2 separate regions of the Homo sapiens genome follow, and region 2 is linked to region 1. The links come from fine-mapping of genetic effects on gene expression. Tissue or cell type: whole blood. Region 1 holds a variant in brackets; the other region holds the start of a gene. All regions are shown on one strand. Distances are from middle to middle.

Region 1 (7,935 bases):
TCTATGAAAAATAAATTTTAAAAATTAGCCAAATTAGCCAGGCATGGTGGCACGCATCTTTAGTCTTAGCTACTTAGGAGGCCAAGGCGGGTGGATCGCTTGAGCTCGGGAGTTCAAGACCAGCCTGGGCAACATGGAAAAACCCCATCTCTACAAAAATAAAAAAATTAACCAGGCATGGTGGCATATGCCTATAGTCCCAACTACTCAGGAGGCTGAGGCAGGAGGATCGCTTGAGCCTGGGAGGTTGAGTCTGCAGTGAGCCATGATGGCACTATTGCACTGCAGCCTGGGTGACAAAGGGAGACCCTGTCTCAAAAATAAATAAATCAATAGATAAATAAATAAAAACAAAATGGTAATAACCATCCCAACCTTGGCGGATGCCCTGATGTGCAATAGACACCAGCAATGCTGATTTTCACCCCTTCCCTTTGCTTTTCAATGGTGGCAGGGAGACAGGAGGGTTTCAGGTGGGACTTTATGAGTGACAATTAGAGCTGATATTCACTGATACTGTCTATAGGTCAGGCACTCTACCAAGCACTTTCCATTCATTAACTCACTTAATCTTTAACCTTTTTCACCCCCGTTTTATAGATGAGGAGCCTGAGTGCCTAGGGAGGTTGAGTAATTGCCTGGGGCCATACGAGTGAGCGGGATTGTAACCCAGGCAGGCTGGCTGCAGAGGGCAGAAGTGTGACTCAAGCTGGAGGGGCTGGCTATCGGCTTGGGAGGCCCCCAGGCCCATCCTGGCTAAGCGAGGCCTTACCTCCACAGTGATGGTGACATTGACTTTGGTGCCGAGGACAGGCTCGCCGCAGTCAGACACAAGCACTGTCAGCACAATGCGGCCCTCCAGGGCGGGGTCGATGGCCTCTCTGTCCAGGGGCCCCAGGTTTCTGAGGAGCCCTGTGTCAGGGTCCAAGGAGAAGTTGTGGCTGTAGGGGCCAGGCAGCAGGTTGAAGAGCAGACGGCTGTTGTTGGTGCCCGGCTCATCATTGTCGTGGGCCTGTGCACGTAAGCAGGGGTTGGTCATCGGCCATCGGCATTCCCAGCCCCCAGCCCCTCCGATGCAGCCGGACCCTCCTCTCCAGCGCTGGCCCACGCAGGCAGTCATCAGGCCTGGAGCCCCTGGGCCCATCTCCCAGCCCCAGTTTCCCATCTAAGAGGCTCAGGTCAGCAGTTTGCAAGAGCTTCTGAGATCTTCAGCACTGAGGCCATTCTTTCATCTCACAAACGGCCACTGTGGACCTACGTGCCCAGCCCCGTTCCAGGTGCAAAGAAAGAATAGAGCCATCATCAAGACAGGCCCTTTTGCTACTGATATTCTAGCAGGAAGGGGGATATGGGGGCAGGAAATTGTAGACAAAGAAAGTTTTAAACTCATAAGTGTGAAGTCCAGCAAGATTCTCATTTTCCCATAATGACTACTTCAGTGCTATATACATATTTTTTCTTTTTTCTTTTTTCTTTCATACAGTTTCGCTCTTGTTGCCCAGGCTGGAGTGCAATGGTGCGATCTCTCTTGCTCACTGCAAACTCCTTCTCCTGGGTTCAAGTGATTCTCCTGCCTCAGCCTCCTAAGTAGCTGGGATTACAGGCACCCACCACCACACCAGGCTAATTTTTTGTATTTTTTAGTAGAGATGGGGTTTCACCATGTTGGCCAGGCTGGTCTTGAACTCCTAACCTCAGGTGATCCACCTGCCTCAGCTTCCCAAAGTGCTGGGATTACATACAGGCGTGAGCCACCACGTCTGGCCCTTCTTTTGTTTTGTTTTGTTTTCTTTTTTTTCTTTCTTTCTTTCTTTTTTTTTTTTTTTGAGGTGGAGTCTCACTCTGTTGCCCAGAGTGGAGTGCAGTGCCATGATCTCAGCTCACTGCAGCTTCCAATTCCTGGATTCAAGTGATTCTCCTGCCTCAGCCTCCCAAGTAGCTGGGATTACAGGCATGCACCACCACACCCAGCTAATTTTTGTAATTTTAGTAGAGATGGGGTTTCACTATGTTGGCCAGGCTGGTTTCGAACTCCTGATCTCAAGTGATCCACCCACCTCGGCCTCCCAAAGTGCTGAGATTACAGGCAGGAGCCACCATGCCCGGCCGTCAGCGCTATATGTTTTAAATAGCTGATTCTTCACTCACTTTGTATGTCTGTGAGTGCGTGTGTGAGTGTGTGTGAGTGCGTGTGTGAGTGTGTGTGTGAGTGCGTGTGTGAGTGCGTGCGTGAGTGTGTGTGTGTGTTCCTGTCCTGCCAGGGCCCTGAAGGCATGCTTGGTTTGTCTTTGGGGTGAACCAGTGTGGATAACACAGCGGGTTCCTCTGTGCCGCCAGGCCTTTGCAGGTTCCGTTCCCTCACCCCGATGCCTCCCACACCTTCCCTGCCTGACTCCAGGCCAGGTTGGCGCTTCCTCTGGGCCTCAACATAGCACAGGTGACACCGCTGGGTGACTGTCTGACGCCCTCTTCCTAACTGGGAGCCGCCTGGGGGGCAGGAATGGTGGTGGACTCATCTCTGAGGACTCAGGGCCCAGCCAAAGACTGGGTAAGTGCTCAGCAAACGTGGCCTTGAATCCAGAGTGGGACCACTCCGACTCAACCAATTCTTTCCTTCCTCCCAGCCAGTCTCCACCTTCAGCTCCTCCATTTCATTCTGCTGGGACCTTGTTTATTACATGCATCCTTTGAAAGCAGCTGGAGATGTTTATTTTTTCCAAAAGCCTCATCCTGTCTGCTCATCCTTTGGTGCCCTGAACTCAGGCCAGTTAATTCATCAAGTGCTCCCTGGGGCTCATGCTGGGCACCACGGTTACAGCAGCCGACCAGAAATGCTCCTGCCCCAAGGAGCTCACAGACCAGGGGAGAAGTGCCAAGCAGGAAGGAGGAAAGGCCAAGGCTTCAGGGCCAGAGAGGTCTGGGCTGCAGCCCCAGCGCCATCATTTACTGGCTGTGTAACCACAGAAAATCACTTAACCTTTCTGAGCCTGTTGTCTCCTGAGAAATGGGAACTATTAGACCGCCTGCTTCCAAAGCTGGTCAAGAGATCAGGGATAGGAACATGCTCTGGAAACTACACAGTCCTGGAAAGACGGGAGGGCTCTGTGGCCACCAGATTGTCACTCTGAGGACCTGGTTTCTCACTTCTCACAAGATGCCTCAGGGGCGAAGCTTCCGAACTCCTCAGGACGAGGGAGGAAGCTACTCCCCGGTGTTTCTCTGGAGTCACTAGTGGGTTTTTATCTCATGAACTCTGTGAACCTGGCCACTGATCTCATTTCCTTTTTTGCTTTGGCCACCATGAAGCTCAGATCAGAATTTGCAGCTCACTCCAAGCAATTCTGTAGCACTGGGTTCTAATTTTACCTTGTGCCCTTTAACAAATGCCACCTTTATTTTCTCTTTTTTCTTATTTCTTTCATATTTTTATCTTACTATTTATCTAAGCCACCTCAAGTCCTTTTTGGAGTGGGGCAGGTGGGTAAATAAAAAAGAAGTGTATGTTTTTGAGGGATTTCTCTGGCAGGCCCAGTGCTGAGCTCCTCACACAAGTCATTAAATTATTCCCCAATGACCCTGAGAGTAAGGCTATAATTTTCTTCATTTCCTGGGAGGAAACAGAGACTCTGAGTGACTGTCTCAGAGCCACACAGCGGAGCCCCGACTTTACCCAGGGCCAGCATGCCCACAGAGCAGGCTTGGTCCCCTCCCCCAGCCT[T/C]ACCCACCAGGTCCAGGCAGGCTCACACCTGGATGGTCACGGAGACATTGCCCTCCTCCTCCTGGACGAAGATGTTGTAGGAGCCGCTAACCACGGGTGCATTGTCGTTGATGTCCAGCAGGTGGATCTGCAGTGTGGTGGAGGAGGACAGGTTCCCGCCGTCTGTGGCCTGCAGCGTCAGGTAGTACACGGCCTGGCTCTCCCGGTCCAGCAGCTCACCGTTCCTCACCGTCACCGTCCCTGAGACGGGATCCACTTGGAAGAGGTCTGCCCTGCTCAGAGGGGCCAGGTTCAGCAAATAGAGACACAGGATGCCCATTTCAGTGTGAATTTCAGATATACAACAACAAATATTTCAGCATATCCCATGCAGTATATGCAACATATTCATTATTTCAAAAAGTCATTCCTTGTTTATCTGAAATTGAAATGTAACTGAGTGCCTTCGGTCTTCCCCAGCTATTCTATCTCTGCAGAGAGGCAGAGAGGTGGGCCTGGGCCCTGCTCACCCACCTGCCTACGGCCCACCCTGAGCCCTTACCCATTTCCTGGGAGCAGGCTGTAGGTAATTTGGCCCCACGCGCCCGTGTCTGGGTCCGTGGCCTGTGAGGCAGAGACATGGCAGGGTGCTGTGTGGAGGCGATGCACGCACCGCCACCCATGCAGCTCGTGGGGACAGAGCTGTCGTGCTTCCTCACACAAAGGGAGAATCCCCAGCACACTCAGATTCACTCATGGCCACCCCCATCTCACACATACACACACACACACTCTCACACTCACACATGCACGCCCGCTTGCTGGGACCCCACAGCCCCACTGTGTCCACATCACTCACGTGGATGCTGTCGGTGACCACAGAGCCGGTGGCGCTGTGCTCTGGCACCGTGAGGACGTACAAGCTCTGGGGAAACGTGGGCCTGTGGTCATTAATGTCTCTAAGGTGGATGGTCACCATGGCGACGGAGAAGTTCTGGCTGACGGAGTCTGTGGCCACAACCTGGGGGCAGGGGAGGAGGCAGCAGCTGTGGGGCCCAAGTGCCCCTCGGCTTCTGCCCCTGGCACCCCGGAGCAGCCCTCACCTGCACCGCCATCGCCGTCTGCCTCTCGTAGTCCACCAGCGCGGATACTCTCACCAGCACCTGAACGGAGGCTGAGCCCACTGCCCGCTCCGGGGAGACGCTGAAGGCTTCTGCATCGGGGCCCCCCAGCGACAACAGGAAGGTGCCATTGCTGCCCTGTAAAGGTGGGCTGTCTAGCAGGGACCTGTCCCCCTGCTCTGCCCACCTGCATCTTCCCCCAGTCCCCAGGCTTCTATCTCTGGATGCCCCGCCCGATGAGGTCCCATGGAAGGGGGCTCTCAAAAGACTGCGAGAGAGGGTGCAGGAGGCTGGGCTGGTCACCAGTCCCTGCAAATGCAGGCTCTGTAGAAGACAGCTCCCTAGGCACTGTGGGTCCCAGACCTGGGCTGGAGCCTGGACACACACCCCTCACTCCTGTCAGCTGTCCCTCCCACCCACCCTTCACATCCCCCACCCCCAGCCCCCACAGCAACACCAAACACCACTCACACCCTACGTCACCCCACTGGCCAGTGCCACCCTTCTGGCCAACCTAACCCCACCCGACACTGTCCTCCACGCAACATTTCCAACCCCTCAGTATCACCTAACACCATACACCCTCCAGAGTTACTCATCCTCCAGCGCCACCGTGTTACCCACCTCTCACTGCAGCCTCCACTTAAGAGTGCCTCCCATGGCTGGGCGCGGTGGCTCACGCCTGCAATCCCAGCACTTTGGGAGGCCAAGGTAGGTGGATCACTTGAGGTCAGGAGTTCAAGACCAACCTGGCCAACATGGTGAAACTCCATCTCTACTAAAAACACAAAAATTAGCTGGGCGAGGTGGTGCACACCTGTAATCACAGCTACTTGGGAGGCTGAGGCAGGAGAATCCCTTCCACCTGGGAGGCAGAGGTTGCAGTGGGCCAAGATTGGGCCATTGCACTCCAGCCTGGGTGACAGAGCGAAATTCCATCTCAAAAAAAAAAAAAAAGAGCACCCTCCCACCTCACACCCTCAGACCACTTGTCCCAACACTGCTCAGCCTCCCCCAGTTCCCAGGACTACCCAAATCATGGCCGCCCAATGCCAGGAGACCTCGCCAGCCACCCATCACCACGGACAATGATGTTCTACTCAGCATCATCTGACGTTCTACGTCAGCCTCCACTCAGCATGGCCTTCTATTCAGCCCCACACGGATCGCCCAGAGGATGATACTGCTTACCAACACAGGCTTCCAGAGAGCACCCAGCACCCCCATTCTCCGCCATCACACCCTGCACCACCAGCACCGCCACCCAGCACCACATGACACCGTCACTCGATCCAGGCTCCCACTGGCCTCCCCCAGCCACCCCCGCCCACACCCACGCCACCACGCCTGCCTTGTCCGGGTCGTAGACCACCATGGTGAGGTCATCGATGGGGATGCGGGGGGAGGCATGCTCGTCCACGTAGCCAGTGAAGTTCACTTGGGCCTCTTCGGGGGTGAAGGTGCAGGCTGGGAGGCTGCAGTTGTAAAACTCAGGTTTGTGGTCATTGACGTCCATCACTCTCACTGTCACCCAGATGCTCACCTTGGCCTCCTGCCCGTAGATGTTGAGGTGTGTCTCGGTGGCCTGAGGCACAGAGCAGAGGGCAGAGGGCAGAGAGCCAGTGCTCAGAGAGAGAGATCAAAGGCCAGAGGTTAGAGAGCAGGGTTCTGACAGGGGTGGTGGGGCCTTTGCTCACCGTGACCTGCAGCTGCACCTCCTCATCCGCCTCCAGCAGCTGCTCACGGTCCAGGGAGCCGTTGACCCTGATCACCCCATCTGCCCCGATGTCAAACCAGCCGGGCCGCGTGGAGTCTGGCAAGGAGAAAGGCGGAACAGCTGGAACAGCTGCTCCAGTGGCTCTGACGGAGCCCCAGGCCCATTGCCTCCAGGGACTCTGACGGAGACCCCACCCTGGCCCCGGCCCAGCCCTGGCCTGGGGACACCCCGTTCTCACAGGAGATGCTGTAGATCACAGGGTCATTGATGCCTTTGTCGCCATCCACAGCCTCCACCGTCAGCACCGAGGTTCCCTGGAATGGGGCCTGGTCAGTGCTCCTCAAACTTCCCCGCCTCCCGCCTCCACCCACACCCCACAGGTCCCCCGTGCACCTTGGCTGCATCCTCAGCCACAGAGGCCGAGTAAAACTCCCTGACAAACTGGGGGTCAAGGTCAGGCTGGTCCACCACGGAGATGGACAGGAAGACAGGCAGGGAGCACTGGATGGTGAAGGTGTTGTGGTACATGCCGCCCAAGTCCTGCGGGGAGATGGCCACCCGTGAGCCAGCGCCGTGGGTCCTAGGCCCGCCTGCCGGCACCCCCACTCACACAGGCCTTCAGCTCCAGCTGGTAGAAAGCGCTCTTGTTGTTGTAGCTGAGGCTGCCATTGAGGACTATGGAGCCATTGGCCAGGATCCGGAAGAGATGCTCGCTGTCCCCAGTGCTAGGGATGACCTGGGGCAGAGCAGACTTGGGTCAGGCTCCCTAGGGACAGCCCTGCACCGAGGACCCCACTCTGAGCAACGCAGGGAAGGTCCCAGCTCTGCCACTGACCAGTCACGCCACTGGCACCAGGTCATATGACCTCTCTGAGCCTCAGTTTCCAGCTCCAGGAAATGGGGCTGGTGACAACCCTCAGTGGGTTGAAAGGAGGATCCAATAAGATGCAGTCGGCCCTCCATCTCTGTGGCTTCCACATCCACAGATTTGACCAGCACAGATCAAAACTGTAGCTAGGCTCACTCACAATGGTTGCGTCTGTACTGAAGGTGTACAAACTTTTTCCCTTGCCATGATTCCCTAAACAATATAGCATAACATGCTATAGTTACATAGTATTTGCATTGCATTGGTATTGGAGGTAACCTAGAGGTGATTTAAAGCACACAGGAGGATGTGTCTAGGTTACATGCAAATACTACCCCGTTGCATGTCAGGGACTTGAGCAGCCATGGATTTTGGTGTCCTCAGGGATCCTGGAGCCAAGTCCCCACGGATACCAAGGGGCGACTATACAGTATGTGCCAGGCACGTGGTTGGTGCTCGGTAAATGGCGCTATCAACAGCAAGTCTGTTTCCATGAGAAATGGGTTTACACACCCCTTATTGTCTGTGGAAT
Region 2 (5,000 bases), 31 kb before region 1:
CCATGACCTCCGGCACCAGCTGGAGGTGGATGGGCTCCCTTGTCTGCCTTCAGCTTTGGCCACGGCAGAACTCAGTTCTGGACTCAAATGTATCAGCACGGCCATCCTATAAACCCCTCTTTCCCCCCAGAGCTCATAAATTATCTGTCCTTCATCCACCTGGCTCCCCAAGGCAGAATCTCAGAGAGACAGCAGAGTTCTCTCTCCCCTCCACCCACATCCACCTCATGGTCAAGGCCTATTGATTTTACCCCTAGATAGGTATCCAATCTGACTCTTCCTCTCCATCCCTACAAATGCCGCCGTGGTTCAGGCATCATCATCGCTCACCTGAACACCTGCCATAGCCTCCTCACTCCTGCCTAGTCTCTGCTCCTGTCCACCCTTGTCCTGTCCCAGGGGGACCTTTTTCGATCACAGGTTGGTTCTTGCCACTTTTCACATCTGTGAACTTCTCCAAGCCTTAATTTCATCTGTGTCATGGAGCCAGTAATGTTTACTTTGAAGGGCTGTAGGGAGAAAAAAATGAAATGATGAATGTGGAATAAGGGTTTGTAAGCTCTGAAGCGAAATGGCCTTGTGGGCAGTGAATGAGCAATTTTCAGGACCGGAAATGTGAGGAAGCAGCCCTGGTGTGGTGCTGTCCGTGGTTCTGAAACCGGTCCGACACGCTGAGGTTTTCTCCTTGCCTGGCGTGCTGCCTGGAGACGCCAGTCCCACGGATTTTCTTCATTTATCACCTAGAATTTTAAATATATATATATATATATATATATATATATATATATATATATATATATATATATATATATTTTAAAGGATCACGGTGACTTACGGTTCACCAAGTAAGAGAGGGGAGTAAAATGTAAGAATAAGAAGTGAGGTTTCAAAGTTAGACTGCATGGGTTTGTAATCCCAGCTCCACTACTAACTAGATGTGTGACCACAAACAAGTTACTTATCTGCTTCTCTTTTCTTATCTGAAAAATGGAGATATAATACATTAATATTAACTTGCTCCTAAGCGATTGGAAATTGAAATTAGATAAAACCTGTAAACAGAATCTTAGCGCCGTGTCTGGCCCTACATAAGCATCATTGCCAATGGTTGTTACCATTGATTAATAGATGGTGGTGGCTTCATAGTACCGGTGCGAGAGGGTTTTGTCACATCTAGAGCAATTACGGAATTATTTTTTCTCCTCTGGGAAGTCAAGGGGAAGGGAACTCCTTCTCTGCAGGGAAATGTGGAGGGGGTGGGCAGCGAGTCTCTGTGTCCTTGGTGATTCAGATACCACTGGAAACCCCTGAACACCTACTTTGCCCTTCCAAGACCACCGTGAGGTGCATAATGTTAGTCCCGTTTTACAGATCGAGAAACTGAAGTGCAGAGAGGTGAAATGATTTGCTCGAGGGTATCCAGGGGGAGGGGGGAGGGCGGGCGGGCCCCCGGGGAGGCCGCAGCCAGGGACTGGAAGGCATCTCTCCCGCACCACTACCTCCGGCGTCCCCGCCACTCGCTGGAGCGTGGGCAGCGGCGAGACAAAGGGCCGGGGGCGGGGAAGAGGAGGCCGGAAGTGCGGCCGGGGGTGGGGGGGGCGGAGGCGGGAAATTTCCTCGCTGGCGGAGCCGGGAGATCGCGCCGACCTGGGTCCCCATCCAGGCGCCTCGAGTCCTCAGGCCGGCGACTGCCCCCTCTGAGCCCCAGTTCCCTCCTTGGTCAAGCCAGGCGAGGGCTTTCGAGGGGCTGGTCTAAGATCTGCTAGACGGCGCGCCCCGCCCTCAGCAAGCTCGCAGCAAAGGGGCAGCCTCTCCGGCCCTCAGTCTCCCTGTCTGTGAAGTGGGAACCCGCTCGAGGACGGCGCGGAACCCGGGAGCCCAGCGGCCGCAGTTAGGGTTGGCCAGCGAGGGGCGCCCCTCCCTCGCTCCCTCCGGCCGCGGTTTCCCCGCGGTCACCGCCCCCTCGCGGTTCCGAGGCGGCCGGGCGGCTACTGCGCATGCCCGGGGCGGGGCGCGGGGCGGGAGCGCGGAGCCGGCGCTGGGGACGGCGGCGCCGAGTCTGCGGGTCCTCCCGCCAGCCCGGCCGGAGGCAGCCGAGGCCGCTCGGGCGGCGGCGGCGGCGGCGGCGGGAGCCGGAGCGCATCTCGCCCAGGAGCCGGAGCAGCGGCACTGCCTGGTAAGCGCCGCGCCCACACCCGCTGTCTTTCCGGGCGGGCGGCGGCAGCCCCTTCATCCGCTCGCTGCCGCCCCGGAGCCGCTGTCCAGGGTCCTCGAAGCCCCCCGGCGGCGGGGCTCGGACACCTCGCGCGGCATGAGCCCGGGTGTGTGCGCGCGGCTGGGGGCGGTGGGTGTCTGTTTCCAGGCTCCTCGCCGGGGCGGGGCGGGGCGGGGCGGGGCGGGGGCGGGTCCCGCAGCCCTGGGCCGAACATCAGAGGGGCCCGGCGGGCCAGGCTGACCTGGCTGTGGGGTCGGCCCCGCGCCCGGCCTTGCCGCCGCCCGCTGGCTTTGTTCGGCATGGCCGCGCGGGAGGGGGTGCTTCCCGCCACTGGGGGGAGGGCGTCCTCCCGCGTTGATTCATCTTCCCCGGAGCGAGCTCAACGCTCCACTGGCTCCACTCGCACTACTGAGCACACTCGCCGTCACACAACCAGTGTGGCACACACTCCGGGGCGCGATCACACAACACCGCGTTCACGCACGGGCGCCTCATTTCCTCGAGTGAGGCCACAGGTCTACCGCACACACACAATGGCTGTTGGTCATTCCATTAGACTCATACACACGGCCACCTGTCACCCAGGGTACTGGGTGGGAGCCTTGCGTACACACCCAGGCACAGCTACGCACTCAAACCAGCCATCGCGGATCACAGCATGGACATCAACTCAACAATACTCCCTGATCACAACACACTCGGGGCCACCCTGCCCTGGCCTGCTCACCCCTGCTCATGGGGTCCCTTGCGTACCCAGATACCCTGGAGTAGACTGCCACCCTTGTGCACACACTCCCTCTTACACACACACTCTGTCTCTTAGCGTGCTGCCCACTCCCACCCACACTGGCCCACGTTTGCACGTCCATGAACGTCCATTCTTGCCCTCCTATGTATGTATGTATGCATGGTCTGAGGGCCGTTTCTGGAAGCAGGTCTGGCTAACACCTTTAGATTCCTTCTCCCCCCACACCCCCGAGCAGGAGACTTCGCTGCTCTGAGGGCACTACGAGAGAAGGGGACGAGGGGCAGCAGACTGAGATTCTCAGACACACTCAGATGCCTGACGAAGTCCCTCAAGCCTTTGTTGGTCTTGTCAGCACAGAAGAGGTATTTGCAGGTGCTTGGCAGTTCTGGCCCTGTTTATGGGTGTAAGGATAGCTCCATGCTGGAAAGAAATCCTAGAGGGAAAGGAATGGCTGGCCAGGTCTCTGTGGCCTGAATGGGCAGCCACAGGGGCTGCTGCTCTCCCTGGGAGCAGGACACAGGCACCTGTGCAACACCCAGATAAGCTCTCCTAGGAGTGAGATACCCACAGGGTCCAAGTAGCCCCCACGAGGCACAAACACACAGGCCATTCTGCACATGCAGGGTGTACATACGCACAACAAGCTCTTCTTGAGCAGAACACAGGAGCCAGGTCCTGGCCCCAGAGTGGCCCAAGCTGGTACATACATCCACAAGCAGTCTGTTCACTCCTTTGCATGCCAGGTGAGCCCGCCTACATACCTAGCAGACATTTCTGCCTTCTGCCTCAGTCAGGCCACACTCAACCTGTTTGTGCCCAAGTGTACAGGCTCATCTGCTCATAGGGTGTGTGCGTTCCCACAGGTGGGGGAATGTATGCAGGGGGAGGGGAGCTCTTGCTTCTTCTACTGCATGCTCCTTGGCACTGTTGCTTGGGAGGAACCTTGGCCTGACCTCAAAAACCAGAAAGGGGGTTTTGAGAACCAAGTGTCAGGCCAGGTGCAGTGGCTCATACCTGTAATCCCAATACTTTGAGAAGCCCAGGCAGGAGGATTGCTTGAGGCCAGGAATTTGAGACAAGCTTGGGCAACATACCAAGACCCCCATCTCTACAAAAATTTAAAGATTAGCTGGGTGTGATGGCGCATGCCTATAGCTACTTAGGAGTCTGATGAGGGAAGATTGCTTGAGCTGAGGAGTTGGAGGCTACAGGGAGGTATGATTGTGTCACTGCACTCTAGCCTGGGTAACAGAGTGAGACCCTGTCTTCAGAAAAAAAAAAAAAAAAAAAAAAAAAAAAAAAAAAAAAGAGCCAAGTGTCAGTGTCCACGATCTTAGAAAGAACTCAGGTTTTGTGCTTGGGCACAACTGGCTTTGAGCTACAGCCTTCCCTCAGTTGTGTGCCCTTGGTCAAGTCTTGACCAAGTTGTGTGCCCCAGTTGTGTGCCCCAGTTGTGTGCCCTTGGTCAAGTCTTCTCCCTCTGACTTCAGTGGCCTCATCTGTGAAATGGGATGATAATGCCCCCCTCATGAGATTGTTGTGGGATCCAGATGATAAAAAGAGACTGAGACCGGGTGCAGTGGCTCATGCCTGTAATCCCAACACTTTGAGAGGCCGAGGTGGGTGGATCACTTGAGGCCAGGAGTTCAAGACCAGCCTAAACAACATGGTGAAACCCTGTCTCTACAAAAAATACAAAAATTAGCCAGGTGTCGTGGCACATGCCTGTAATCCCAGCTACTCGGGAGGCTGAGGCAGGAGAATCACTTGAACCTGGAAGGTGGAGATTGCAGTGAGCCGAGATCATGCCACTGCACTCCGGCCTAGGCAACAAAACAAGACTCGGTCTCAAAAAAAGAAAGACAGTGAGCGTGCTGGGCCCAGGTAATGGAGCTGGGTTCTAGTGGGGTAGTTGCGGGGAGAGAATGTGGGGCCTCAGGCCTGGGCTGCCTCTCAGAGAAGCAGCTCGAGGATCCTCAGGCCTCCCCAAGATCCAGGAAGGGCCCAGCAGAACTGTGAGCAGTAGAGCCTCTGGGA

Evidence for each region. PIP is the estimated chance that this variant, and not a neighbour inherited with it, causes the effect.
Region 2: GPRIN1 starts here. The variant in region 1 is fine-mapped to the expression of GPRIN1 in whole blood (TOPMed, PIP above 0.99).

The regions. Positions count from the first base shown.
Region 1 is chr5:176,574,420-176,582,354 of GRCh38, reverse strand. It overlaps CDHR2 (cadherin related family member 2), which reads right to left. Exons shown (of 32, transcript NM_017675.6): 8 at 7,146-7,271; 9 at 6,929-7,075; 10 at 6,774-6,849; 11 at 6,516-6,631; 12 at 6,170-6,403; 13 at 4,801-4,956; 14 at 4,557-4,718; 15 at 4,260-4,321; 16 at 3,747-3,990; 17 at 773-1,012. Among named protein-coding and RNA genes, the nearest start is that of CDHR2, 29 kb to the right of the region's middle. RefSeq lists a silencer at 3,633-3,927. The variant T/C (reference allele first, on the strand shown) is at 3,719.
Region 2 is chr5:176,607,175-176,612,174 of GRCh38, reverse strand. GPRIN1 (G protein regulated inducer of neurite outgrowth 1) reads left to right here and starts at 2,019. Exons shown (of 2, transcript NM_052899.3): 1 at 2,019-2,176. RefSeq lists silencers at 493-787, 1,689-2,318, 2,379-2,438.